7 linked regions of the Homo sapiens genome follow. The protein of the gene in region 1 purifies or fractionates together with the protein of each later gene. This does not show direct contact. Each region holds a gene or a part of one and is shown in the gene's direction. Other genes may lie near its edges.

What was found.
Region 2: the proteins of PIGF (region 1) and PARN purify together in Homo sapiens (affinity purification with mass spectrometry; one large-scale study listed by BioGRID and IntAct). This does not show direct contact.
Region 3: the proteins of PIGF (region 1) and SUPT6H purify together in Homo sapiens (affinity purification with mass spectrometry; one large-scale study listed by BioGRID and IntAct). This does not show direct contact.
Region 4: the proteins of PIGF (region 1) and PDE4DIP purify together in Homo sapiens (co-immunoprecipitation; one large-scale study listed by IntAct). This does not show direct contact.
Region 5: the proteins of PIGF (region 1) and PACSIN2 purify together in Homo sapiens (affinity purification with mass spectrometry; one large-scale study listed by BioGRID and IntAct). This does not show direct contact.
Region 6: the proteins of PIGF (region 1) and PRKAR2B purify together in Homo sapiens (affinity purification with mass spectrometry; one large-scale study listed by BioGRID and IntAct). This does not show direct contact.
Region 7: the proteins of PIGF (region 1) and WDR89 purify together in Homo sapiens (affinity purification with mass spectrometry; one large-scale study listed by BioGRID and IntAct). This does not show direct contact.

What each region holds. Positions count from the first base shown.
Region 1 is NC_000002.12:46,610,192-46,614,419, reverse strand, and holds part of PIGF (GPI ethanolamine phosphate transferase, stabilizing subunit), read left to right. Parts: intron 1-634; coding exon 635-726; intron 727-2,075; coding exon 2,076-2,192; intron 2,193-4,228.
Region 2 is NC_000016.10:14,434,854-14,438,641, reverse strand, and holds the end of PARN (poly(A)-specific ribonuclease PARN), read left to right. Parts: intron 1-1,869; coding exon 1,870-1,925; 3' UTR 1,926-2,941; downstream 2,942-3,788. UniProt on the Homo sapiens protein: 3'-exoribonuclease that has a preference for poly(A) tails of mRNAs, thereby efficiently degrading poly(A) tails.
Region 3 is NC_000017.11:28,672,067-28,676,294, forward strand, and holds part of SUPT6H (transcription elongation factor SPT6), read left to right. Parts: intron 1-690; exon of another isoform or gene 691-792; intron 793-1,304; 5' UTR 1,305-1,335; coding exon 1,336-1,444; exon of another isoform or gene 1,445-1,552; intron 1,553-2,216; coding exon 2,217-2,375; intron 2,376-2,470; coding exon 2,471-2,547; intron 2,548-2,903; coding exon 2,904-3,096; intron 3,097-3,334; coding exon 3,335-3,419; intron 3,420-4,090; coding exon 4,091-4,228.
Region 4 is NC_000001.11:149,000,912-149,005,139, forward strand, and holds part of PDE4DIP (myomegalin), read left to right. Parts: intron 1-679; coding exon 680-1,115; intron 1,116-1,938; coding exon 1,939-2,131; intron 2,132-2,699; coding exon 2,700-2,819; intron 2,820-3,997; coding exon 3,998-4,228. UniProt on the Homo sapiens protein: Functions as an anchor sequestering components of the cAMP-dependent pathway to Golgi and/or centrosomes.
Region 5 is NC_000022.11:42,871,567-42,875,794, reverse strand, and holds part of PACSIN2 (protein kinase C and casein kinase substrate in neurons protein 2), read left to right. Parts: intron 1-264; exon of another isoform or gene 265-3,303; intron 3,304-3,335; exon of another isoform or gene 3,336-3,810; intron 3,811-4,228.
Region 6 is NC_000007.14:107,159,553-107,162,887, forward strand, and holds the end of PRKAR2B (cAMP-dependent protein kinase type II-beta regulatory subunit), read left to right. Parts: coding exon 1-30; 3' UTR 31-2,259; downstream 2,260-3,335. UniProt on the Homo sapiens protein: Regulatory subunit of the cAMP-dependent protein kinases involved in cAMP signaling in cells. Type II regulatory chains mediate membrane association by binding to anchoring proteins, including the MAP2 kinase.
Region 7 is NC_000014.9:63,600,136-63,604,363, reverse strand, and holds part of WDR89 (WD repeat-containing protein 89), read left to right. Parts: intron 1-177; exon of another isoform or gene 178-365; coding exon of another isoform or gene 366-448; intron 449-2,056; exon of another isoform or gene 2,057-2,186; intron 2,187-2,429; exon of another isoform or gene 2,430-2,893; intron 2,894-4,228.

The sequences.
Region 1 (4,228 bases):
CTTAACATTATTTTCTACCATGTATAAGCTCTGTTAGGTCATTTACTGCCTATGATTGGAAAAGCTGAATGTATGTGTTATGTTTATATATTCTTAAGCTCCAAATCAAGAAGATCTCATGTTTCTTTGTAGATGTTCAGGTCTTTTTTCATACGGGTTGTGTAATATGAGTGTGATTTCAAGAATTATTTAGTATTTTGCTTTTTCAGTGCAGTTTTCCCAGGAATTTTGTTTTAAAATGAAAAAAATTGTTATTTTCTGCAGATATTTCCTCTATCATCGCATAATACTGTATTTTTTGTATCCTAGCTCTCTGATGTCAATCAGTATTTGATAAATATTGATTAATGACATAGCTCTATATTACCATGGAAACAGAACCTCTTTTCGACTCATGTAGGTCGGATGGGTAGAATATGGGCGGAAGGTGGTATTTGCCTTTTAGGCTTTTTTAGTCTGTATCGAAGGCTGTGTATGTGACGGTACAGGACATGTGATCTGATTTGAGTATACCCAAGAACATTTGAACTGTTTTACACATTATGGGAACAAGTTGTGTTTGTAGATGAAATGGAAGAATTTATTGTCCTTTAAGCATTATCTTGAATCTTCAGGTTATTCATTTCTCTTTTAGGTAACTGGATTTTTGAAATGCTGTATCTACTTTCTTATGTCTTGTTTCTCCTTTCATGTAATTTTTGTTCTGTATGGAGCACCACTGATAGAGTAAGTTTGAAATTTTTACCCTAAATTTATATTTTAAAACATTCATTTACCAAACTGTGTGCTAATTCTTAGCAACTAGAGAAAAACCATGATGTGCATCATTAATAGATCAAGTAAGGACACCAACATCATTAGCAGTGTTATTCTTTTTTAAAAAAAACAGCAGAATAACTTAATTTATTAAATACTCTTGTTACCTAGCCTTCTAGTATCCAATTGCATGTTGAGAGAAGGGAGAGTAGAGAAACTATACTATACCAATAAGTATTTGGCCCTTAGAACCTCTGAAAGAACTTACTATGATTATATGTGTAAGTTATAATTAGCATATCAGTTCTTATAAATGTGATTCTAAAGTACTTGAATGGAGTTTTTCTTAACAAAAGTCAATAGATTCCTGTATTCAAATACTGAATAAGCTGGTGTTTATAGTTTAAAGGTAAAATTTAACACTTTTTCTGAACTGACAAATTTCAAATTCTTAGAAACAAAATTCATGAATGTTTCTTACATAATGTTTATCATAGTTTGAGAAGCTTCAGTTTAGCAGTGATTAATGATCATGGTGAAATGAGTGATGAGATACATATACATATACACACACATATATTTGTGTTGCTAAGTATACCATTTTATATATATATATATATTTATACATAGTTTTACGTACACACACTAAACTGACAGGTTATTCTTTTCTAGATGGGAGAGAACAAGACCTTTGTAATGGAAAATGGTGGTTCCTGTCTAATCCATTTTAAAGCAGAATGAATGTGTCTGGCACAGTGGTTCTCAAAATGTGGTTTTCAAACCAGCAGCATCAGCATTTTATCAAAATGCAAATACTCAAGCTTCAGTCAGAAACTCTAGGGGTAGAGCCCCCACCAATCTTTAGTTTATCCAGCTCTCCAGGTGTTTCCAATATATGTTAACCACTAGTTGTAGAGAACCACTACAACTAGTATTCAATAGTGGTTCAATAGTGGTTCAATAGTGTATTGAACCACTAGTTGTAGAGAAAGTTCCAGAGAGACTATTGAGCAGAAAGCTAACTATCTAGAAATGGATTTTGTTTGTTTGTTTGTGTTTGCAGTGAAAGTCTCAGCATGGATCCTAGGGTCTTTAACACTTCTGAAATCTATCATTAAAGCGAAATACTTGCTAGATTGTTTTTTAAAGCTACATGTTGGTGGTAAAATTATTTATAGTCATCATTTTGGTGGCATTCATGTTACCTTTCAAAGTAAAGCATAGGAAGATATTTCACATTTTATTTATATAATAAAGATTATGTATGTGTATGTTTACCTTTAACACTTTTTTAAAAAGTAATCTTTTTTTTTTTCTAGGTTGGCATTGGAAACATTTTTATTTGCAGTTATTTTGTCTACTTTTACTACTGTGCCTTGCTTATGTTTGTTAGGACCAAACCTCAAAGCATGGCTAAGAGTGTTCAGTAGAAATGGGTAAGTTTTAATTTTATATTATAATGATATTGAAATTAAAAAATAATTAATGAAGTATTTTTCTATTCATGGCAGTTTGCTGATTATTCTGAGTGCTTCTCATTGCTGATGGTGCTCAGAGATGCCTTAAGGGGTCACTGCAATTAGGGACTGGGGACAGGGCAGGCAGAACTACAAGCCCCTCCCTCCACGTTAGCAAGATCAGCTCTCCTTTTTTCTGTATGGTAGAATTCCACCTAGCCTTTTGTTTGTTTAAAAAAAAAAAGAAGAAGAAGAAATAAAAAAAAATTCTACTATTAAAAGAAAGCCTTGAAAACCATGGTTCTGGGATAATTTGGCACTGTGATAAGACTGCTGTAAATAAAATTGCTTACATACATTTTATAAGGTAGAAGTGGGGTCCACAATCTAAAAATGTGTTGTGTAACAATGATAATTTCTTGTTTAGCCTTTTTTGTGATAAGATACCAGAGCTCAAGTTTTATGAGATTTCATTTCCTTGGTGGCCGTATATATTTTCAGCATGGCTAAGTTAAAATTTTAGCTTCTTGAAAGTCATTTAAATGATATGCACCAGAAATAGTGGAGATCTAGCTAAGAAAGCCAGAAGGTTATTTGATTCTTTCCTATTTATCACCCAGCAGCAAGAACTTCTTGAGCACTTAGTCTGTGCTCTGTGTTATTGTGTTATGCTAAGCTGTGTGTGGTTTCTGAAGTATTAGGAGGAATCTTTTTTTTTTTTTTTGAGATGGAACCTCGCTCTGTCGCCAGGCTGGAGTGCAGTGGCATGATTTCGGCTCACTGCAACCTCCATCTCCCAGGTTCAAGTGATTCTCCTGCCTCAGCCTCCCAAGTAGCTGGGACTACAGGTGCATGCCACCATGCCCAGCTAATTTTTCTATTTTTAGTAGAGACAGGGTTTCACCACACTGGCCAGGATGGTCTTGATCTCGACCTCATGATCCGCCCGCCTCGCCTCCCAAAGTGCTGGGATTACAGGTATGAGCCACCACACCCGGCCTTATTAGGAGGATTCTTTTGCTGAGGAGCTTATCTGTTCAAGGGACAAAAATGAGCAAATAACATCAGATTACAAATGTGTAAATCCAGCAATAAGTGGTGTAGGAACTCAAAGGGACAGAGCATCAGTAAAGAATGGAGGGGGAGATGGGAATGATCTATGATGGACTTAAGTCAAGAGTATATGATTTGGTGAGACCAAGAAGGAAGAGAAAGGCACCTCGTGCAAGGAGAATGGATAAAAGCATTGAAACTGAAATGAACAGGGTATTTTTGTGTGATTTGAAAGGTAACAGCCCAATGAGAGCAAAAGATGCATGCTGAGTAGCTTGGCTTCATAAATTACCGACTTATTCCCTTTGAAATCAGTACTGTTTGGGACGAGTGTGGTGGCTCACGCCTGTAATCTCAGCACTTTGGGAGGCCAAGGCGGGTGGATCACCTGAGGTCAGGAGTTCAAGACCAGCCTGGCCAACATGGTGAAACCCCATCTCTACTAAAAATACAAAAATTAGCTGGGTGTGGTGGCGGGTGCCTGTAGTCCCAGCTACTTGGGAAGCTGAGGCAGGAGAATTGCTTGAACCCAGGAGGCGGAGGTTGCAGTGAGCCGAGATCGCACCACTGGACTCCAGCCTGGGCAACATAGTGAGAATCTGTCTCAAAAAAAAAAAAAAAAAAAAAGGAATCAGTACTGTTTTCCCTTGGAACCGTCTTCTAATATTCATAAAGTCTCTAGAAAACAGAAGTGTAACAACTGAAAGCATTTTCTACATTATTACCATAATATCCCAAATGGTATTAATTGCTTTTAGCCTTTTAGTTTGAAATTTTTAAATAGTGAAATTGGATTGAAATCTTATTACTTTGGATTAGTGATTTCTCCAGTTTTCAAGTCTATGTCTAATAATGGGTGTATTTGGGGGAAATACTGTCATGTGATTTTACAATTAGTTCTGCTATAATGTGGCCTGTGTGTTCCTAAAAATCACTACGCTGTACAAAATGGGCAGTAAAAA
Region 2 (3,788 bases), on another chromosome or scaffold:
TATACAGCATAAAATAGTACTGGGTCCATCTTAGACGAAGCAGTGAGACCTGTTCAAGGTCATCCAGCTAGTAAAATGGTCCAACTTGACTTGCCTTACTCCAGAACTTTTTGCTTATTCCATTATTTCCTGTTAGCTCTTCATGGAACCACTTCCTGTGTGTCTGGTGGCTCACTGTGCACTCACACACCCCCCCCCCCAACTAATGGCAGGTGCAGATTGGCAGGTGCAGATTACAAGTATTGCAGTGCAGTTGCTTTTAGCAATTTATCTTCCTTTTTCCTCTGAGCTGGATTTAATTTACTTCAGTTCCCCACATTTGGCATTGTAGCTTTTACCTTTAGAATGGCTAATTGGCTACTGCAATATTTCTTTCATATGTGAATTATAAAAGTGCCCTTAATGGATGTTTCTTTTCATACAGTTAGGTGTTTATTGTATCATTGTGGGACTGGGAAGGCCAGGCTAGCTGCAGGTTATCACAGGCCCCTTGCAGTACTTCACTGGACCCCATGAGTCCTTTTCAGTGGATCATCTCCTGCCCATCTTCACTTCTCCAGAGTGGTCTCGCCATCTTTACTGGGTGTCCCAGAACGTGCCTGTTCAGAGCGATGAGACCCAGGGCAGAAAGAGTCCGGTTACCCTTTCCCGGTCTCCTCACCCTAACTCCCTGGATCTTATCACAGTAAATGATCAGAAGTAGAAATTCTCATGTTAGCTGAAATTCTCTTCATGTTTTTTCTTGTGTTCAGACCTCGTTATTTTTAAGCATCCCTGTTACTGATGATAACCACTGTGAACTCAGTGATATGATTCCCTAGTTTGTAAGACACTGCACCCCCTCTGTATTTAAAAGTTATTTCCCATTGGAGGTATCATCAAAGACTTCTCTCCCTTTCTAAAATCTTGGTGTTAGCAGCTAGAAGAGAGACTGCCAGTTTCCCCCGTCAGCCCTACTTTATGACTTAATGCATGGCACCACTTGTGCAGCTGACGCCTGGTCGGGCCACACTTTCCATTATGAACATGCTCTTTCCTGACTTCCCTCACATTCGTTGAAGTCCAGTCCCAGCTCAGTTGCTGGCCGCAGCTGCTCGTATTGTAGAAAGTGGCATGAATAAAAAAGAAGGGCTTCTGACATTGGGGTGAAACTTTGTCACTGAAGAGATCTTTTCAATCCAAGAAGAGGACCCCAGCCAGCTTCACCGAAGCTGGAAAAAGCTGCAACCTTCTTTTGCCCCTGTTGAGATATTGGAACCCCCACTGGTTGGCTTCCCTCTGCCCTTCAGCTGCCCACCTGAGATTTCTCACCTAGGCAGAGCCACAGCACAGCACAGAGAAACTCAGTTTCCAGGGACTTTGGCAGGGATGTTGGTGCTGTGGGAGGATTCAGACCCCATCTCAGCCACTTGCTAGCTCTGTACATCTGGTCATATTACCCCACTTCTCTCAATCTGTTCTTGCATCTGTAAAATGGGGTAGTGTTACCACCTTGGTGGGCTTTTAATGAAGATTATATGAATTAAATGCCCGCTGTATTGCCAACAAAGAATCCAGCATGGTGTTCAGTGAGGAATACTGTGCATGGCTACAGTTTAACTCCTGTGAAATAAATAGATAGATGCTGGAGGCAGGGAGGTGCTTCCTCCGCGCCCCCATGATGTTTCTGTGGTTTCACTTTCCCATGCTGGGCACTGCCCTCCCTAGACAAGACCTGTCTGTGGACTCTTTCCAGCGCAGCTGTTTAGCCAGACGCTGGCCCCGTCTGCAGCCGTCACAGGCCCTCTGTCTGTCTGCTGGTCATGTCATGCTCTCCTCAAGGTGCCGTCCTGGTCCTGCTGTTCATATTGTTTTGTTCTTTCCCACCAGGAAGCATCTCGAAGAACAGCCCTGCCACACTCTTTGAAGTTCCTGACACATGGTAACCAAGACCTGAGGGCAGCAAACCGCTGGTGCTGTCGCTGTGAGCAAGAGCCGGCTGGCACATTTGGAAGCCGCACTGTATTTAACTTAATCAAATGTGGTATGGGAGGGGTTGGAAACCAAGTTGTCTCCTGGGGGGGAGAAAACAGGTTTTATTTTTGTGGCTGTGGTTTTTTCCCCTTTTTAATCTAACTGCCTGTTGACATTGACACTCATCACGGTTGTAGGCTGTCATGAATGTGTACGTGCTTAACCAGTGAATTCCGTGTTGCTCTTGTGAGGCCTTTCCTGTCATGACCCAGTGTGCTTAAGAACCTGCCTGATGGGGAGTGTCGGCTGTGAAATCTGCAAAAAGAGCTGACATTCCAGCTGCTGTGATCATGAATTTGGGGGTGTACTGTCCTGCCTGTGCATCTTCTCGCACTGAGATTTTGAGGCAGTTGCAGCCCTCGGTTAGTCTCCCAGTGGAAAAATCGGTTGTGCCTCCCTGCTTCCCACCATAGCTGCCTGAAAACATGACGCTCTCAAGCTTGTCCTTCCTTCAGGAAGATGTCCACTCATGCCCACCCATGAGAGGGCTTGCCGTATGCCCTGGCCTTTGGGCATATTTATGTAGAGTTCCTTTCTCCTAAGACGTGAGTTTCTCATGGGGGATGTACGAGTAAAAAGGTTAACTTCTGTTCTTATGCGTGGCGCTGTGTTCACTTTCCAGAGTCTCTGTTCGTTTGTTTGGATGGCGGTCTCGGGGTACGGCAGCGTGTGTGCGTACGTGTCTGTGTGTGTGTGTGTGTGTGTGTGTGTGTGTGTGTGTGTGTGTGTGTGAAATCGTGCAAATCTACAACATGTCCCAGCCCATTCTCCGTTGAAACAGATCACAGCAACGACAAACGCTCATGGCGCTGCTTTGCTCCACCCGCTTCAGATAGATCATTGTTAGATATTTCACATTTTTGTATGGTGGAAATAAAAATGAAAAATGTATTTCCAAAAGATGAAAATTAAAAACATTTTCATAGGACTCTGGTTTTCTCCTCTCTTTTTTTTTAATAAGTGAATGATGTTTTCGCTCTCTAGTAATACACAGATAAATTTCACACTCCTAAAAAAATCTGCTAAGCCACTAAGGCTGATGTTCATGGATTTTTTTCTTCTTCTTTTTACCCCTAACTGCTATACCTGCCACGATGGATCGGCTCCTCAGTACCGAGCTGAGCCCTGGTGGTAAGTGGCCTTGTAGGAGGGTGGGAGGAATGAGGACCCTTAGCACTCACACTGGAATCCCAGGGTGTTATGCAGATTCCGATTTGTAAGACAGTTTCCCTAATCAAGAGCCTCTGTCACACCTGTAAGCTGAGACGGGAGGATCACTTGAGCCCAGGAGTTCAAGACCAGCATGGACAACGCAGTGAGACCCTGTCTTTAAAAAAAAAAAAAAAAAAATTTTTTTTTTTTTTTTTTTTAAAGCATGTTAACTTCTCTTCCCCCTTCCTGCTCCTCTCCCTTCCTACAAAACTCCCTGGAGTTTTGTAGCCACAAAGTTAGAAACCCAGGCTTGGCAGGAAGGACTGCCCACCCCTCCTAGAGTAGTCAGCACACACGGCTCAGTGGAAAGTGTGAAGGTAGGATGGAGACAGACAGTAAAGGAGGGTGTATGCAGGAATGTGTAGAGAGGGCTGCCGGACTGCCGAGTCAGCAGCACTCACGGAGAAATGAGGAGAGTCTGACCCTTGATTTTGAAAGAAAAAGAGGGGGCCCAGCGCAGTGTCTCACGTCTATAATCCCAACACATCGGGAGGCCAAGACAGGAGGATCACATGAACCCAGGAGTTCGAGACCAGCCTGGGCAACACAGGGAGACCCCATCT
Region 3 (4,228 bases), on another chromosome or scaffold:
TCCCAACCAGTACTCACACAAATTGGCTCAAGTTCATGAAGTATTTGTGTGTTTAATCTATTGAAAAGAGATTTTGCTTTTGACTTTGCTAATAAGTATGAATAGTGTATGTAAACATATGAAAGCACCTTTTATAAAGTTGGCACTTATTGTTTCCAAGCCTCCTAGAAGCAGATCACATAATCTCACTCTACCACCATATCCCCACTTAATTGTCCCTACATTAGTTTCTTTCCTCATTTGCCCATTCCTGTCTTCAAATGGTAAGTGAGGTAAAACTTTGGGGAAGAGAGATGATACATATACAAGTCTGGTATAATTGCCTTCTTTTTCTTTTTTTCTTTTCTTTTTTTTTCTTTTTTTTCGAGGCAGATTTTGCTCTTGTTGCCCAGGCTGGAGTGCAGTGGTGCAATCTCAGCTCACTGCAACCTCCACCTCCCGGGGTCAAACCATTCTCCTGCCTAAGCCTCCAGAGTAACTGGGATTACAGGCACCTGCCACCATACCCGGATAATTTTTGTATTTTTAGTAGAGACGGGGTTTCACCATGTTGGCCAAGCTGGTCTCGAACTCCTGACCTCAGGTGATCCACCTGCCTTGGCCTCCCTAAGTGCTGGGGTTATAGGAGTGAGCTACCACGCCTGGCCTAATGGCTTTTTTTTTTAAGACAGAGTCTCACTCTCTCGCCAGGCTGGAATGCAGTGGCGCAATCTGCAACCTCCACCTTCCGGATTCAAGAGATTCTCCTGCCTCAGCCTCCTGAGTAGCCTGGCTTTTGCCTTCTTTTTGAAAGTACGTATGAGGCCGGGTGCGGTGGCTCACGCCTGTAATCCCAGCACCTTGGGAGGCCAAGGTGGGCAGATCACCTGAGTTCAGAAGTTCAAGACCAGCCTGGCCAACGTGTTGAAACCACATCTCTTCTAAGAGTACAAAAATTAGCCAGGCATGGTGGCGCATGCCTATAATCCCAGCTACTCGGGAGGCTAAGGCAGGAGAATCACTTGAACCCAGGAGGTGGAGGTTGCAGTGAACGGAGATTGCGCCACTGTACTCCAGCCTGGGTGAGAGAGTGAGACGCCACCTCAAAAAAAAAAAAAAAAAGTACATATGAGAGAAGCAATGCTGGGAGGAATGGATAATGGAAGAGTTGGAACCATCAGATTCTTCTTTTCTTCTCCCCAAGTGGGAATGTTGAGTGGGCAGAGCAGTGGCAGGTTGCTAAAAGGCTGTTTGTGGGAAGGTTTAAGAGCCCTCTGTACAATCATGTGTCCGTTTTTTTATCCTTCACTCTTTTCTTTCCCTAGTTATCTTCAGGCAGAGTGAGAAGCTGCAGCAATGTCTGATTTTGTGGAAAGCGAGGCTGAGGAGTCAGAGGAAGAATACAATGATGAAGGCGAGGTGGTACCCCGAGTCACCAAGAAATTTGTGGAAGAGGAGGATGATGGTGAGGAGGCCCCAGCCTCAAGCTTCTCCCCACTATTGCTAAGCTTTGGATAGTTGGATTCTTGCTGATGAAAAGCTCAGGCTCAGCACAGAAGTTATCACACATGAGGTACCAGCTTGAGAACTTTCAGTCATTCTTAGCAGATACTAACTGAGCATCTGTCTGTATGCCAGGCACTAGGCCTGGAACTAGAAATATAAAACAATAAATATCCAGCTATTGTGGAGTTTACTTTAGTTGGGGGGTGGTTGATAATAAATCAGTAGATAAGTCTGTATATAATACTTTCTGCTTTTAGACCTAGCATTGTTGATATTTATTCACCTCGTTTCCTATTTCTCTGGCCAAGCCCAATCTTTAGAATTGTCAACAGAGTAGAACCACGAAATGACTTCAAAGGGGTAAAGGGACGTACAAGTTTTATCAAAGGAATTATGGCAAAAAAAAGGAATATAGCTGCTGAGTTTACAAACTGAGTAAAACAAAGTTATTGGTGGCTATAATAATCTAGTAATGATTTTGAGAAGCCAAAGTGACGGGGAAGATCATCCTGCCCAAAGACAGATGGTGAATGTAGGGGAAGAAAACATTCTTTCCAGATGCTGCTACTCTAAGTCAATGGCTATGTTTTGCATCTTTACATGAGGCAGAAGAGTTAACATGGCACCCAGGTCATTAGGTGCAGAGCAAATGGATAATCACATTAATCAAGTGACCCTGAACCTCTAGCCTGTTTTTCAGTCTCCATGCCTCAAACATGCATGTCTTCCAGATGAGGAGGAGGAGGAGGAGAACCTAGATGATCAGGATGAGCAAGGCAACTTGAAAGGCTTTATCAATGACGATGATGATGAAGATGAAGGGGAGGAGGATGAGGGCAGTGACTCTGGTGATTCAGAAGATGATGTTGGCCACAAGAAGAGAAAACGCAGTGAGTAGTCTGTCGTTGGCTCAAGTGAGGCTTGGGTGGAGGTTGCAGTGGAAAAGGGCAACCCCATCACCATGGGCAACACTTTGTTTCTTCAGCCTCTTTTGATGACCGCCTGGAGGATGATGATTTTGACCTCATTGAGGAGAATTTGGGTGTCAAAGTCAAAAGAGGAGTAAGTGTCATTCTTTGTCTTTTGTCCCTGGGGGTAAAGGAAAAAGCCCTGGAAATTTCAATGTCTGTGGGTGAGGAGGCACACGCAGGACAGTTTGGAGAACATTAGAGCACGGTGTTCGGTATCATTGTACTACGGAGCCTAGATTTGCATCCCAGATCTGGGTGCCTGTTAGAGAAAGTCTTGTCCAAGTTTCAAGGATGGGCTTTGAGGCTACAAGAGCATCACTCGGCATGTTCTTTCCCATCTCTCTTGGTCAGAGTAATTGTGGTGGGAAGAAGGGAGTGAGACTGGAGATTTGGTATCCGTATGCCAGACTCCTCAGATCCTGATAAGGCAGGTTTTCCCACCCCTAGCAAAAGTACCGGCGTGTCAAAAAAATGTCAGATGACGAGGACGATGACGAGGAGGAATATGGCAAGGAGGAACATGAAAAAGAAGCTATTGCGGAAGAAATCTTCCAGGATGGGGAAGGGGAAGAAGGGCAGGAGGCCATGGAGGCCCCCATGGCTCCTCCAGAGGAGGAGGAAGAAGATGATGAGGAGTCAGGTATGTTATATTGGGCAGGGAAGCCAGTGTTTGGATGGGTATTGGGATTTCCTGGCCCATGGGAACAGGATGGAAACCATTCTTTAGCTACATCCCCCAGCATTTGACACAAAGAAGTTCCTTTTCAGGAGCTTCCCTTCTCTGTTGCTCACTGGCCACTCACATAGTAGGAACCAAAGCAATTTAGTCCTGGCTCAGCCCCTGACTCTGAGCCCCAACCCATCCTTTTCCTACCCAGATATTGACGACTTCATTGTGGATGATGATGGACAGCCTCTGAAAAAACCTAAGTGGCGGAAAAAGCTTCCTGGATACACAGACGCGTGAGTGGGGTCTGGTACAAGGTGGGGATAAAGTGATTGAGTGGGCCCAGTCAGGAAGGAGGAGATCAGAGGCCTTTGCCAAAAATGGGGCATTCCCAGCTTGCAGCCATTTTGCTTCCCTGCCTCAAATAACCTCTACCAGGCAGTGATTTCAGACTGCTCCCGGAAGCCCTGGGAGCTGTCTCTGCACTCTAGGACTACTGTGGGATTGGAGTAGAGTCCCACATGGGCAAGGCTCCAGCATTCCTCTTCCGCCTACAGCTCCATGTTTATTCAATTATATATATATTGACATTCTTAATATATTTTTGTTGGAAGACAAATGCCCGCATCACAATTTACAAATTTGAAAGCTTTTGCCCTGAGGGAATACTGTAATGCCTTAGCAGAAGATGGGTCCACTGAGCAAGACATAGACCCGTCTGCTCTGTTGCTATTTGATTACTGTCACTCGAAGGTGCCAAAGATGAGCTTTTTAATCTTCCATATACAATAGTTTGCCCAGAAATATCCGCCAATGAAGCCTTTCGTCCACAGTGAATATGGTTATTTTGTTTACCTTCCTCCTAACCCTCTCAGTTCCCTTGGGACAAGTAAAGGATCTATGCAAGGGCTGCATTTCTCTCCTCTCACCTGAACCTGAGCCACCTGCCTCTTGCTGCCACCTACAGGGCCCTGCAAGAAGCCCAGGAAATCTTCGGTGTGGACTTTGACTATGATGAATTTGAGAAATACAATGAGTATGATGAAGAACTGGAGGAAGAGTATGAGTATGAGGATGATGAGGCTGAGGGTGAAATCCGAGTGCG
Region 4 (4,228 bases), on another chromosome or scaffold:
AATTTATCTGGAATGTCTTGGTGCAAATTAGCTGTTTTGGTCAATTTTATTTCTTCAACAAATATGAATGATTTATGTGGCAGGCACTTGTGTAGGTACTGGGGATATGGGATGAATAGGACAGACACAGTCCTGCTCTCAAGAAGGTTATCTCTATCACGTGAGCCAGACATAAAGCAAACAATTATCTAAGTACATTTTGATTATATTAATAGTTCTGATTAGTGTTATTTATTTATTCTGTGTTCCTAAGTCCCAATGGTTTGAAACTGACTGATGATAAATAATAGAACTGTAAAATTTATAACAATAAATTTGTTACAGAAAAGGTCTTATTTTTTAACAGTGTAAGTACTCTGGTTTATTCCAGAGGCTACTAAAAATTAGAACATATGAGGCTATGGGGCACAAGTAAAGAAAACTAGCCTGCATGTCTTGAGTCCAAGGTTTCTAGTGATGGTGCTGCCACCAAGAAGCTGTGGAAGTTTGGGCAAGTCTCTTACTTTTCCTGAGCCTTGGCTTTCTTGTATATAAAATTAGGGGGCTGTGGTAGGTCTCAGGTTGCTTCATGCTCTGGGGTAAGTCTGAGTTAATTGCGGGCTGAGATGTTGGTAAGAGGTAGTATTAGGAACTGTTGTGAGGACCAGACCTAGCCCTCAATTAAGTGTGTTTCCTGCAGGAACACCATGCTGAGCCTTTGCCTTGAGAATGCGGAGCTGAAAGAGCAGATGGGAGAAGCAATGTCTGATGGATGGGAGATCGAGGAAGACAAGGAGAAGGGCGAGGTGATGGTTGAGACTGTGGTAACCAAAGAGGGTCTGAGTGAGAGTAGCCTTCAGGCTGAGTTCAGAAAGCTCCAGGGAAAACTGAAGAATGCCCACAATATCATCAACCTCCTCAAAGAACAACTTGTGCTGAGTAGCAAGGAAGGGAATAGTAAACTTACTCCAGAGCTCCTTGTGCATCTGACCAGCACCATTGAAAGAATAAACACAGAACTGGTTGGTTCCCCTGGGAAGCACCAACACCAAGAGGAGGGGAATGTGACTGTGAGGCCTTTCCCCAGACCCCAGAGCCTTGACCTTGGGGCTACCTTCACAGTGGATGCCCACCAAGTAAGTGTGGGCTTAGATTGAGTGAAAAACAATTGGAGAAGGGCTTGAGATGACAGTGTTTACCTTAAAACATTCTCCCATATGAATCAGGAGGTACCAAGAGAAGGGTCTCTTTGTACCACAAACAATAATAGTAATATTCTGCCTACATTCAGCCTTTAGAAAGGCTTTTATAACATAAATATTTCTTGAGTACTTAATTTTTCAGATAACACACTAGGCATTGGCATGGGGCAATAAAACCAATGGCTGCCCCTGAGATACTTAATATTGTCGGGAAAGATGGCACACAAACAGGTAATTTTAACAGGATGTGGTAACTGCTGTAACATAGGGATGCATCAGGTTATGAGGCAGCCCAGACAAGTGGTATGTAATGACATCCCTTATCACTGCCATTTTTTTGTCACAGCTCATCACAGGTGTCTGTTCCTGGGCTTCAGATGGGTTACTGGGATCCTCTTTAGGGAAGGAGCCATGCTGAAGATTCAGTGAAATGGAGAATACAGGGATTCTGAGAGAATCAATGGGACAGAATGTGAGGGGAGATGAGTGGTCTCTTTTTGACCACTGAGAAAACATTTCCTGAGAGCTCCTCTGTAGACTTGATTGGTGCTGTGCTGTGTGCTGTGGATACAGATATGAAGAAAACATTATCCCAGCGCTCCAGGAGCTCCATCTGGAAAGCAAGTCACTGCCAAATGGCATGAGAAGTGCTGTGACAGACTTGAGTAAAGTCCACAGGGTTCAGAAGGGGCGGTGGTCGTCACTGCATGGGGGTGACCTCAGACTGTCCTGATCCCTGTATTGGCCCCTTTCACAGTTGGATAACCAGTCCCAGCCTCGTGACCCTGGGCCTCAGTCAGCGTTTAGCCTACCAGGGTCCACCCAGCACCTGCGCTCCCAGCTGTCACAATGCAAACAACGCTATCAAGATCTCCAGGAGAAGCTGCTGCTATCAGAAGCCACTGTCTTTGCTCAGGCTAACGAGCTGGAGAAATACAGAGTTATGCTTAGTAAGTAACTATGACTTACTAGTAAAGAAAACTAGCCTATATGTCTTATAAGTTCTGTATGTTCTATACCGACATAACGTGGTTATTGAGCACACGAAGTGTGGCTAGTGCAACTTGGACATTTGGTTTTATTTAATTTTAGTTGATGTAGTATAAAGTGGCCATATGTGGCTGCTAACTACCTTATTGGACAGTACAGGTCTAGGGTCTTGGGACTCTAAATTAGTTCAGCTCCATTCAACATTTATTGAACCCCTGCGGATAAAGCACTTGCCAGCTTCAATGGGGCTGCTAGAGATGATAGTGTACAATCCCTGACTTACAGATATCTGGTCCCAACTAAAGCCTGGGTTATCTGAAGGGGAGATAATGGCAAATGCAGGCTCCTCCTTTGGAAAGAAATTCTGCTTCCTGGAGCTGGTGATCTCTTCTCCCACCAGTTCAGAGAAGCTTCTCTCCCACTGTGGATCTGCCTTCCGTGCCTCAAAAGGTTAGGGTATGTGCCATTGAGGCTGAGGGCATATGTGGGAAATTCAGACATTCTGTAACACCTGCTTCTCTTCCCAAGCAGGTGAATCCTTGGTGAAGCAGGACAGCAAGCAGATCCAGGTGGACCTCCAGGACCTGGGCTATGAGACTTGTGGCCGAAGCGAGAATGAGGCTGAACGGGAGGAAACCACCAGTCCTGGTAAGAGCACAGGGTGTGGGGCTCACCCCTCCCTGGAGTCAGCTGTCACATTTGGATGCTGTTGGCCAATTCCACACCTGACAAGTATTGGGGAAGAGGAGGACAGGAGGTTAATAGGAGAAATCTTACCCAAAATGAGGCTGAGTATAAGTTTGAATTTCTACAATTAGTTTTTGGCATACTGCTAATAACAATAATAATATAAAATTCTATCCAACTGATTATTATAGAAATACTAAGGCCTACTTAGAGACCAGATAAGGTTTTAGAAACATGCAAGCCATAAATTAAAAATAATTTTGTTTTGCATTATAAAAAGACTACAACTATAGGGCCACCCACCACATTGAAAACCAGAAGAGAAGAAAAACACAATCTCTCTCATTCTTGAGGCAGTGTAGTGTGGCAGTTAAGAGACAAGATCCTGGGGCCAGACTGGTTGGTTCAAATCCCAGTTTGAAAACTTTCCTATGTCCCAGTTTCTTCATGTGTTAAAATAGTAATAAAGGAACTACCTACCCCATCAGGTACTAAGGTCAATTAAATGAGTAAATTCTTATAAAATGCTTTAGAACAGTGCCTGGCATCTGGTAAAATGCCATGGATTAGTTCTCATTCTGACTACCACTGCCCTAATACACTGATGTTAACATGCTGATATATTTATTTGAAGCCTTATTTTCCTATGCCTATTTTTCATACAGTTGTAACCCAATAAACTTTTAAATTATAGTAAAATTTAAAGAGCATTAAACTTTCAGCATGCAGTAATAGCTTGTCCTACATTCTTGTGGCCATCCTAAATAGATAAGGCCATGTTAATGTCTTAAGAAACACCAGTGTGTGTGGAATGAACACAGGACATTGGAGGATTTGAATTCTGGCTCTGCCATGTGCTAGTTTGAGTGATCTAGAACAAGCTAGTTTACCACCTCTCTTTAAGTTTTGGTTTCCCAGTCAGTAAAATAGAAAGTGATGAAACCTAACTTGTAGGTATAAGGAAGATAAGAAATATTGTATTTGAATGCCTAGTACAGTGTCAGGGTTGAATAAAGTACTACTTCAACTTTTTCCCTAGTAATTATTGTCCTCATGACCAAACCTGCCTCCTCTCAAAGGCAGTGGCCACAACAGCACATCCAACTTTTATTTAGGAAGACATCTTTGTCTTTTTTCAGAGTGTGAGGAGCACAACAGCCTCAAGGAAATGGTCCTGATGGAGGGGCTGTGCTCTGAGCAGGGACGCCGGGGCTCAACACTGGCTAGTTCCTCTGAGAGGAAGCCCTTGGAGAACCAGCTAGGGAAGCAGGAAGAGTTCCGGGTATATGGAAAGTCAGAAAACATCTTGGTCCTACGAAAGGACATCAAAGATCTGAAGGCCCAGCTGCAGAATGCCAACAAGGTCATTC
Region 5 (4,228 bases), on another chromosome or scaffold:
GGAGGCCAAGGCAGGCAGATCACTTGAGGTCAGGAGTTCGAGCCCAGCCTAACCAACATGGTGAAACCCTGTCTCTACTAAAAATACAAAAATGAGCCAGGCGTGTGGCGGGGCATCTATAATCACAGTTACTCAGGAGGCTGCGGCAGGAGAATCACTTGAACCTGGGAGGTGGAGGTTGCAGTGAGCCAAGGTCACACCACTGTACCCCAGGCTGGGTGACAGAGCAAGACTTTGTGTCAAAAAAAAAAAATTAGCTGGGCTAATTTTAGTGGCACATGCCTGTAGTCCCAGCTCTCTGGGAGGCTGAGGTGGGAGGATCACCTGAGCCCAGTAGATTGAGGTTGCAATGAATCATGATTGTACCACTATACTCCAACCTGGACAACAGAGCGAGACCCTGTCGCAAACAAACAAACAAATAAATAACCTGGGCAACAGAGCGAGATCCTGTCTCAAATAAATAAACAAACAAAAGTAGCAGATTAGCTGGGCGTGGTGTTGCATACCTATAGTCCCAGCTGCTTGGGAGGCTGAGGCAGAGGATCACTTAAACCCAAGAGGATACAGTGAGCCATGTTCATACCACGTACTCTAGCCTAGAAGAGAGAGCAAGACCCCATCTCTTAAAAAAAAAAAAAAGTAGGCTGGGCATGGTGGCTCACGCCTGTAATCCCAGCACTTTGGGAGGCCGAGGCACACAGATCACGAGGTCAGGAGATTGAGACCATCCTGGCTAAGAGTGTGAAACCCCGTCTCTACTAAAAATACAAAAAATTAGCCGGGCGTGGTGGCAGCCGCCTGTAGTCCCAGCTACTCGGGAGGCTGACGCAGGAAAATTGCTTGAACCCGGGAGGCGGAGCTTGCAGTGAGCCGAGATTGCGCCACTGCACTCCAGCCTGGGCGACAGAGCAAAACTCTTTTTCAAAAAAAAAAAAAAAAGCGGATGCCCAATGCCAAGACTCAGAAATAGTGAGGTGCTGCCAAGCCAGTGCCTGGACTCCTCACCTTGCTGGGCCAAGGCTGTGAATTGCAGGGCACTGGCTAGTCACACAGAAGGGCATCTGGAGAAGCTGTTGGCCAGGACCACCAGGTTCCCCCATATGTAGTCTGGGAGCTGCTAGCCCCGCAGGGCCATGAGAGAAGCCTTTCTCTAGGGGTCCCCAACTGCCAGAGAAGCCCTCAGGAGAGCCACAGCTTTGCCCAGACCCCAGAGTAGCACTTGGCATGCCCCTGGGCCAGGTGGGGCCTTGTCTCAGGCAGCAACTTGTGTGTGTGCACACCTACCTGCCCACACCTACCATGCACACACCAACCCACACACATATCTGTGTTGCTAGGAGCAGAAACCATAGTTTTATAAAACAGCCTGGATCCTGATTACATGTGCTCTGCCTGTGAAGACTTTCTGTGCAATGTCTTTTTCTTCTTTGAATGGTCTTCAATGATAATCTTTTTTTTTTTTTTTTTTAATAGAGACACGGTCTCACTCTGTTAGCCAAGCTGGGTTACAGTGGTGCGATCATAGCTCACAGCAGCTGCAGCCTTGATCTCCTGGGCTCAAGCAGTCCTCCCACCTCAGCCTCCTACGTAGCTGGGACCACAGATGTGTGCTACCACCCCACCCACTATAGGAATCTTTTTTAATGCATTTGCAGTTTACCAAAATGGCTTTTCACATCTTCAATTTGAAAAGTGTTATCTTGTCCGGGCACGATGGCTCACACCTGTAATCCCAGCACTTTGCGAGGCCAAGGCCGAAGGATCACTTGAGGTCAGGAGTTTGAGACCAGCCTGGCCAACATGGTGAAACCCTGCCTCTATTAAAAAATAAAAAAATTATTCAGGCATGGTGGCACACACCTGTAATCCCAGCTACTGGGGAGGCCAAGAGAATCACTTGAACCTGGGAGGTGGAGGTTGCAGTGAGCTGAGATCATACCACTGCACTCCAGCCTGGGTGATGGAGTGACACTCTGTCTCAAAAAAAAAAAAAGGAAAGAAAATTGCTATCTTAGCACCTAAGGAAGCTGGAGTGGCCTAGGGCCAAAGTGGACCCACAGCAACCCAGATTCTTCCCTCTCTTGCCCTCTTTGTGAAGCTCCCCCAGAAGCAGCATCTACCACTCCAAGAGGGAAGCTGGGCCAGAACTCAACCCACACAGGCTGAAGTGTGCCCTTGCCCCTAGGCTACACTTGTGGGAAAGGCTGCCTTACCACCACCACCCCAACCCCTGACTCAGCAGGGAAGCCAGGGCCTGGGGGCTGTGCCCAATGGCCTAGCTTCTAACCAGTCTTCAGCCTCCTCCCCTCAGCACCCAGAGTGCCAGCCTGCTGTCCCCAGACACTCTTCCCCTGGGCTGGTTATCAGCTGCCTCTGCCCAGTTTGAGAAGTTGGGTTTTTTTGTTTTTTTGGATTTTTTTTTAATGTGCCTTTAAGCCATCTTCATCCAGTTTCTGATATCTTTGGTTGGGGTTGTTACCCCCGACTTTGTTGGTTTATTTGTTTATAATTTCTAACTCCTTTTCAATCCTGCCTATTGGGTTTGACAGTAATTTTGTAGATTTAAAATGTTTCTTCCAGATCCAAGTAAATTGTCAAAAGCAAACTGATTGAAATGAACCTTCTAATCACCAGTTCACATTTGCACAATGTGAAAGCTTTCCTGTCCGTTCTATTTTCTGTGTTATCCTGCTTTTTAACAATGCAAAATTAGCTCCCAGCCAGTGTGGCTTGACTTACGTCTCTTGCGGTGTTCTGGCTGTTTGCCACATGGTAGTGTGGGGTTACAGGCCTCATCCTAGCCTCGGTAGCCTGGATCCAGGCCTGTGAGAGCACAGCAACCAATGAAGGCAGGACAAAAGAAACGCCAGGGGCCCGAGGCACGAAGCGGTGGAAAGAGATGGTGGTTCATCGTGGCTGCTGCCCTGTGGCCCCTGCATCTGCTCCTGATGCCTCTGGGTTAGATCTGCAGGCGCACTGGTCTGGCAGAAGCGGCACGACAGTGGGAGGCTGAGCCAGTGCTTACGCATGTCCCACCCTCCCAGGGTTCTTTAGTGTCTTAACACTTAATCTTCACAGTACCCCCAGTCCACAGATGAGGGCCACAGGCCCAGGGAGTGGACGCAGTTGGTCCAGGTCTCCCAGCCAGTGAGTGATGGCTGTGGGATTTGAGCCCAGGCAGTCCGGGGAGCACTGGAAGCCCCAGGTATTAGCTCCGCAGGCATGTTGACCAGCATTGCTGCCATACAAAATCCAAAGCATCAGGGAAATGCTAAACCAGGGGGAAAACTGCATCTAATTCTGAAAAATGGACCAAAAAATGCCAAAGAGAGTTACAAAACTTCAAACTTAGCAATAAAGGCAAAACAGCACTGGGACTATTTCTTTCCCACCAATTGCTTGCTCCTGACGAGGTCCGAGCCAGCAGGCCCAACTGGCCTTCCCTGCAGTGAGTTACCAACCAGAAGCACACAGGCCCCTGCCCACCCCTGGGCTCTGAGCTGCTCTGCTTCCCTAACCTGGCAAATGCCAGACCTGGGGCCCTACCCTAGTGCCACCTCCCCCTCACCACCCTAGTCTGCCTCCTTGAGACCAGGATCCATCAGTTCCTCTCATCTCTGTATCTCCTCTTCTACCCAAGGCCTGGCCAGAAGTAGGAGGTCCTTCAGGTTGGAACAACCAAAGATAAATGGAACCACGTTAATACATTAGAGCCACAGGGAGATTCCAGAACAGCGCCAGGGGCTCCTTCTCAGGGTCTCAGGAAGGGTTGACACATGGCACCGTGCACAAGTCATCAGCCAGGTGCTGGGGATAAAATGACAGGTATGACTGTCAGACATGGTCCCTTCCCCTCGCAGCCTGGAAGTTGCAGAGGAGAGGGATTAGCAAAGGCAGAGAGACCCCAGAGACAGCTGCTGGGAGCAAGGCGGCCGGGGCCCTGGGGAGGGGACAGAAGAGGCCCAACGTGAGGGAGGGGCACAACCGAGGGACGATTCCTGCCACCTGGCCAGGGTGGTGAGGAAGGCACAGCCCTATGGAGCTGGATGCCGCAGTCTCAGTGGGAGCCACTGTGGCAGCTGAGAGCAGCTTGTTCCAAATTACTGTGTGAGACTGTCATCTCTAGGTCTGTCAGAGGCCCATGACCAAAGAGGCAACTTAAAATGCATGCATTTAGTAGAGAAATGACCAGGCCCTCGGCCTGCCCGCCACAGAATGCCTGGCC
Region 6 (3,335 bases), on another chromosome or scaffold:
AACATGGATATTGTTGAACCCACTGCATGAAGCAAAAGTATGGAGCAAGACCTGTAGTGACAAAATTACACAGTAGTGGTTAGTCCACTGAGAATGTGTTTGTGTAGATGCCAAGCATTTTCTGTGATTTCAGGTTTTTTCCTTTTTTTACATTTACAACGTATCAATAAACAGTAGTGATTTAATAGTCAATAGGCTTTAACATCACTTTCTAAAGAGTAGTTCATAAAAAAATCAACATACTGATAAAATGACTTTGTACTCCACAAAATTATGACTGAAAGGTTTATTAAAATGATTGTAATATATAGAAAGTATCTGTGTTTAAGAAGATAATTAAAGGATGTTATCATAGGCTATATGTGTTTTACTTATTCAGACTGATAATCATATTAGTGACTATCCCCATGTAAGAGGGCACTTGGCAATTAAACATGCTACACAGCATGGCATCACTTTTTTTTATAACTCATTAAACACAGTAAAATTTTAATCATTTTTGTTTTAAAGTTTTCTAGCTTGATAAGTTATGTGCTGGCCTTGGCCTATTGGTGAAATGGTATAAAATATCATATGCAGTTTTAAAACTTTTTATATTTTTGCAATAAAGTACATTTTGACTTTGTTGGCATAATGTCAGTAACATACATATTCCAGTGGTTTTATGGACAGGCAATTTAGTCATTATGATAATAAGGAAAACAGTGTTTTAGATGAGAGATCATTAATGCATTTTTCCCTCATCAAGCATATATCTGCTTTTTTTTATTTTGCAATTCTCTGTATTCTATGTCTTTAAAAATTTGATCTTGACATTTAATGTCACAAAGTTTTGTTTTTTTAAAAAGTGATTTAAACTTAAGATCCGACATTTTTTGTATTCTTTAAGATTTTACACCTAAAAAATCTCTCCTATCCCAAAAATAATGTGGGATCCTTATCAGCATGCCCACAGTTTATTTCTTTGTTCTTCACTAGGCCTGCATAATACAGTCCTATGTAGACATCTGTTCCCTTGGGTTTCCGTTCTTTCTTAGGATGGTTGCCAACCCACAATCTCATTGATCAGCAGCCAATATGGGTTTGTTTGGTTTTTTTAATTCTTAAAAACATCCTCTAGAGGAATAGAAACAAATTTTTATGAGCATAACCCTATATAAAGACAAAATGAATTTCTGACCTTACCATATATACCATTAGGCCTTGCCATTGCTTTAATGTAGACTCATAGTTGAAATTAGTGCAGAAAGAACTCAGATGTACTAGATTTTCATTGTTCATTGATATGCTCAGTATGCTGCCACATAAGATGAATTTAATTATATTCAACCAAAGCAATATACTCTTACATGATTTCTAGGCCCCATGACCCAGTGTCTAGAGACATTAATTCTAACCAGTTGTTTGCTTTTAAATGAGTGATTTCATTTTGGGAAACAGGTTTCAAATGAATATATATACATGGGTAAAATTACTCTGTGCTAGTGTAGTCTTACTAGAGAATGTTTATGGTCCCACTTGTATATGAAAATGTGGTTAGAATGTTAATTGGATAATGTATATATAAGAAGTTAAAGTATGTAAAGTATAACTTCAGCCACATTTTTAGAACACTGTTTAACATTTTTGCAAAACCTTCTTGTAGGAAAAGAGAGCTCTCTACATGAAGATGACTTGTTTTATATTTCAGATTTTATTTTAAAAGCCATGTCTGTTAAACAAGAAAAAACACAAAAGAACTCCAGATTCCTGGTTCATCATTCTGTATTCTTACTCACTTTTTCAAGTTATCTATTTTGTTGCATAAACTAATTGTTAACTATTCATGGAACAGCAAACGCCTGTTTAATAAAGAACTTTGACCAAGGCTATAAATGCCACGTACATTATTTTCAGTATTGTTGGTTATATTTAAATTTTCCTTACAATAAAGCACACTTTTATAATAAAATACATGAATTATTGTTTTTCATACTTTTTTGCTTGTTTCTTTAAAGTTTTCTGACGTGCATAATGCATAATTCATTGAAAAGCATGATAGCAATGTGGCATGTGGAAGCGAACCCCCAGGGCATAACATAGTAAGAAAGTATGGTTCTGTATGGCAATAGGTTTTTAAAATTATTAGCTATTCATCATGTGTGGGAGAAATAATTGTGGTGTGTTGCAGATTTATTTGGCCATTTAGAATAACCAAATCAATCTGGCTAACTAGGAATTTATGTGTAAAATTATCTGATTAAAACAGCTCAAGTTTGACTTGTGGATGTCATTATTTAATTATTAATCAACACTCCTTACTATGTGAGAATTCTCTGTTGACCATTCATTCAAGGACAGAGCCTCTCGTGTATCATGCGTGGCTAAGGAAAGGGGTGAGGACTTTTTCCCCAAGAGTGACGGTGCTTTCCCTTATTTTAAATAAAGGTGTGTGTGTGTGTGTGTGTGTGTGTGTATGTATGTGTGTGTGTATTGTTTTCTACATATCCATATGTACTAGGGCTTAGTGCAGATATTTTAACATACACGTTACCTGTGACACAACTTAGGTGAATGTATATGTGTTACCATTAGGATTAGTATTATAAACTCTGGCTAAATGCCATTTAAAATGCTTTAAAAGGCCGGCACCATGGCTCATGCCTGTAATCCCAGGACTTTGGGAGGCTGAGGCAGGAGGATCACGAGGTCAAGAGATCGAGACCATCCTGGCCAATATAGTGAAACCCCGTCTCTATTAAAAATACAAAAATTAGCTGGGCGTGGTGGCATGTGCCTGTAGTCCCAGCTACTCAGGAGGCTGACGCAGGAGAATCGCTTGAACCTGGGAGGCAGAAGTTGGAGTGAGCCGAGATTGTGCCACTGCACTCCAGCCTGGTGACAGAGCGAGACTCCGTCCATAAAACAAACAAGCTTAAAAATTCTTCAAGTGAAACGGCATGAAGCAAGAGACTTCGGATTTTATTGAAATGTAAAATTTAAAAACGCTGTGTTCTTTCCCTTCCCAAAGCATCTTTAAAGATACTGATAGAATTTTTCCTCTCAAAAAACGTTATAAAGGATGAGATGACCTTTGCCATTCTTAAGGAAAATTAATACTGTGTAGGCCTAGAGAGGTGAGTCATACATCTGGATTAAGGCAGAGCTTTGTTAAATTGCTGGACGGGATTCTTAAAAAAAAAAAAATTTACTACCTAAGAGAAATATAGTTTTTAAGGAATGCTGGCTTCTAAAATTTAGTGTTTGGTATAGCCTGATGCCAAGTATCAGAAAGAATTTTGACAAAAATGAAGAATTGGAATGAGTTGAGACAACCTTACCTGTTCTAGAATACT
Region 7 (4,228 bases), on another chromosome or scaffold:
TTGGCTCATTGCAACCTCCACCTCCCGAGCTCAAGCAGTCCTCCCAAGTAGCTGGGACTACAGGCGTGCACTACCACACCTGCCTCATTTTTGCATTTTTTTGTAGAGGTGGGGTTTAGCCTTGTTGCCCAGGCTGGTCTCGAACCCCTGGGCTCAAGCAATCTGCCTGCCCTGGCTTCTCAACATGCTGGGATTACAAGAATGAGCCACTGCACCTGGCCATCATTTTTAATTTTTAAATTAGTGAAACAGGGTAAGGATGTGATAGGAAATGACAGGGGCTTTTTCACGTTGATTGGCAGTGGAGAGACTCTCTCTGGGCAGGTGACATATGCTGAGACCTGAATAACAGGAAGGAGTCACTCATGCAGACATGCAGGGAAAGAATACTCCAGGCAAACAGCTGTTGCTGCAGTCCTGAGGCAGGAGCAAGCCTGACGTGTTCAAGGTAAGGCTATTTTGTCTGGCGGGAAAACCACAGAACAGTTGTACTGTGCTAGCTACCTCAGCAGCTGTGGAGGTGACTACCCCAGCGTTACTGGAAAATGGTCATTTCATGTCTGAATACTTAAGTTGAAGGAAGAACACCATTTTTAGAGCTACCTAATGCTTCCACGGAGTTTCTCATGTGGGGCTTACAGACTGATGGGGTCCTATCAGAAGGCTTCAGAAGCTGGCTTAAAGGGTCTTAATGGCCAAGTCCAGACACTTTGAGCATCAAAAAGCAACAAAGCGATAGATTATGATACACAGTTTTTAAGAATTGTGATTTCCTAGTCAAAGAAGCAGAGAAAGGAAAAAAGCTCTTGTTTATAGAAGAATGCCTGCTAAGGTAGAAAGAATGATAGAAAAGGACTGTTTTACAGATTCTAGCATAATCATTGATTTAGGCAAGGACAATTAATAGATCCTGAACTCTTTGGATGAAAGTTGTTGAAGAATAGGATATTCAAAAAATTCCATGACATGAAAAACAGAAGGTTGGAGAGATGCTGTTATAGTGAAGTATTTAGGAATGGAGTGATACTTTGTCTGCAGCTAACTCTCATCAAAAGGTTCATTTTTAAAAAGCAGTGGGGTGTGTGTGTGTGTGTGTGTGTAGAGAGAGAAAGCAAATGTGGCAAGAAGTTAACAGTGAACCTAGAAGGTGAACTGTGTGTGTGCATTAGAACTTTTTGTGTGTGCGCACTTATAAATGTTGAAAATTAATGAGCTGTGATGCCATCTCCAAAGGAAAAATAAGTAAAAATAAATGTTGAAAATTAAAAGTTGGAGGGAATGCTTATTTCTATTTTAAACCCAAATCCAGGCTGGGCGTGGTGGCTCACGCCTGTAATCCCAGCACTTTGGGAGGCCGAGGCAGGCGGATCACGAGGTCAGGAGGTCGAGACCATCCTGGCTAACACGGTGAAACCCCATCTCCACTAAAAATACAAAAAAATAAAATAAATTTTAAAAAACCCAAATCCAACTTACTAATATTTTTTGCTGTTTGATGTAATTGTGCTATTTGGAGCTCTCTGATAGATCCAAATTCTCCCTTATATGGTGATACTGGTAATTTTTATATTACATCTTTTTTTTTTTTTTTGAGATGGAGTTTCACTCTTGTTGCCCAGGATGGAGTGCAACGGCGCGATCTCGGCTCACCGCAACCTCCTCCTCCTGGGTTCAAGCGATTCTCCTGCCTCAGCCTCCCGAGTAGCTGGGATTACAGGCATGTGCCACCACGCCTGGCTAATTTTGTATTTTTAATAGAGACGGGGTTTTTCCATGTCGGTCAGACTGGTCTCAATCTCCCGACCTCAGGTGATCTGCCCGCCTTGGCCTCCCAAAGTGCTGGGATTACAGGCGTGAGCTACCATGTCCAGCCATCTTTTTTTTTTTTTTTTTTTTTTTTTGAGTAGGAATCTCACTCTGTTGTTCAGGCTGGAGTGCAGTGGCAAGACCTTGGCTCATTGCAACCTCTACCTCAAGCAGTTCTCCTGCCTCAGCCTCCCGAGTAGCTGGATTACAGGTGTGCACCACAACACCAAACTAATTTTTGTATTTTTAGTAGAGACGGGGTTTTACCATGTTGACCAGACTGGTCTCGAACTCCTGACCTCAGTGATCGCTGCCTCGGCCTCCAGAAGTGTTGGGATTACAGGCATGAGCCACCATGCCTGACCTATTACATCTATTGTGTAGGTACTATGATATGCCATACATTGTGCAGAACACATGGCATGCATTAGTTAATCCTCCTAACAGTTCTTGAGTTAGTACTCATTTCCCCTTTTAAAGATGAAAAGACAGATGCTTAAGAAGATATCACTAAAGCAACAGAAAAAACATTTCATCTTAAGAATGAAAATGAATTTGTTAGACAGGCTAGAAAGAATATTCACTGATGAGAAAGCACAATAGAAGAATTTATTTTATTTTTTTCATTAGTTATTTAGTTTATTATAAAAGAGAAATATGGAAATTATTTACATGATGAAAGATTTCAGAACTTCGGTGGAATGGGCAGCTTCATGTTGATGCCATTTCAATAGTGACTTATTTCAGTTTACGTACTTTCCAAGAACGTCACCATCTCTAAATAGGAAATAATCCTTGTCATCTAGAACTACTTTGGTGCCTCCATGTTATGGGAGAAGAACTTTATCTCCAACTTTCACACGAACTGGTTGAATCTCTCCACCCTTTCCTTTAGAACCCGATCCAACAGCGACTACTGTTGCTTGCAATACTTTTCCTTGAGATTTTTCTGGAAGCATAATGCCTCCTTTGGTTACAGTTTCAACAGCACTCCTTTCAACCAATACTCGGTCAAAGAGTGGAAGAAACTTAAACGCTTGTCCTGCCATGACTCCCTCCACCTCAGACTCGTACTCTGCTCTAGTGTCAAGAATTTATTATAGTGTTACTAGGCATGCATGTTTTTCTGGCCTTGAACTTGTCCTACATACAGCCCACCCTGGAGAGGCAATCTAGTATGGTGGTTTAGAGCACAGTCCGTGAAGCCTGAAGCCAGAATGCCTAGGTTCAAATCCCAGTTCTACTATCACAAGCTGCTACTGCCTTAGAAGGACTTCTCCAGGATTCTATACTGGGAACCTCTGTTGTATTCGTTTCCTATTGCTGCTATAACAAATTACTGCAAACTTAGTTGTTTGAAATAACATTAAGTTTATTATCTTAACGGTTCTGGAGGTCTGAAGTCCAAAATGGATGTCACTGGGCTAAAATTAAGATGTCAACAGGGCTGCATTTCCATTTGGAGGCTTAGAGGACAATCTTTTCTTGCTTTTTAGTTTCTAGAGGCCACTCTCAGCCTCTGTCTTCAAAACCAGCAACATTGTATCTCTCTGTGTCTTTGCCTTTCTTCTATGGGAACCTCTTCCTCTGACTCTTCTGCCTCCCTCTTCCACTTTTGAAGACAGTTGTTACCATATTGGGCCACGGTGATAACAGATAATCTAGGATAATCTCCCTATTTTAAGGTTAGCCTTATATTAGGCTGATAAGCAACCTTAATTCCATGTACAACTTCAGTTTTCCTTTGTAACCTAACATATTCACAGATTCCAGGGATTAAGGCATGAATATTTTTGGGAAACCTTTTTTTTTTTTTTTTTTTTTTTTTTTTTTTTTTTTTGCCTACATATCTATGTTTAAATTCTAAAGTTGTGTAAGGCAGCTGGGGCCAGGAGAAGATTATTCCAAAGTGGAGATCCTTGCCAATCCTGAAGATGACTTGAGTAGAACCAGTAATTGGGTTTGAGCTAAAAGGAACTACTGGGTGGCGTATGTACATGTTTTTTATTCTCTTACTAGCATAAAATATATATAGTAAATTCAGCATTTTTTTTTTCTTTTTTGAGGCAGGATCTCACTTTATTCCCCAGGCTGTATGACAGTGACATGATCATGGATCACTGTAGTCTCAACTTCTGGTCTCAAGCAGTCCTCCTACCTCAGCCTCCTGAGTAGCTAGGACTACAGGCATAGGCCACCATGCCCTGCTAATTTATTTTTTGAAGAGACGGCGGGGGGGTCTCCCCATGTTGCTCAGGCTGGTCTCTAATGCCTGGCCTCAAGCAGTCCTCCTACCTCAGCCTCCCAAAGTGCTGAGATTACAGGTGTGAGCCACCACTCCTGGTAGTGAATTCAGTATTAAAGAGTGATTGAATTAGAAGGCAACTGAGTTTTAGTTACATCATAGGAAGGAAATGATTAT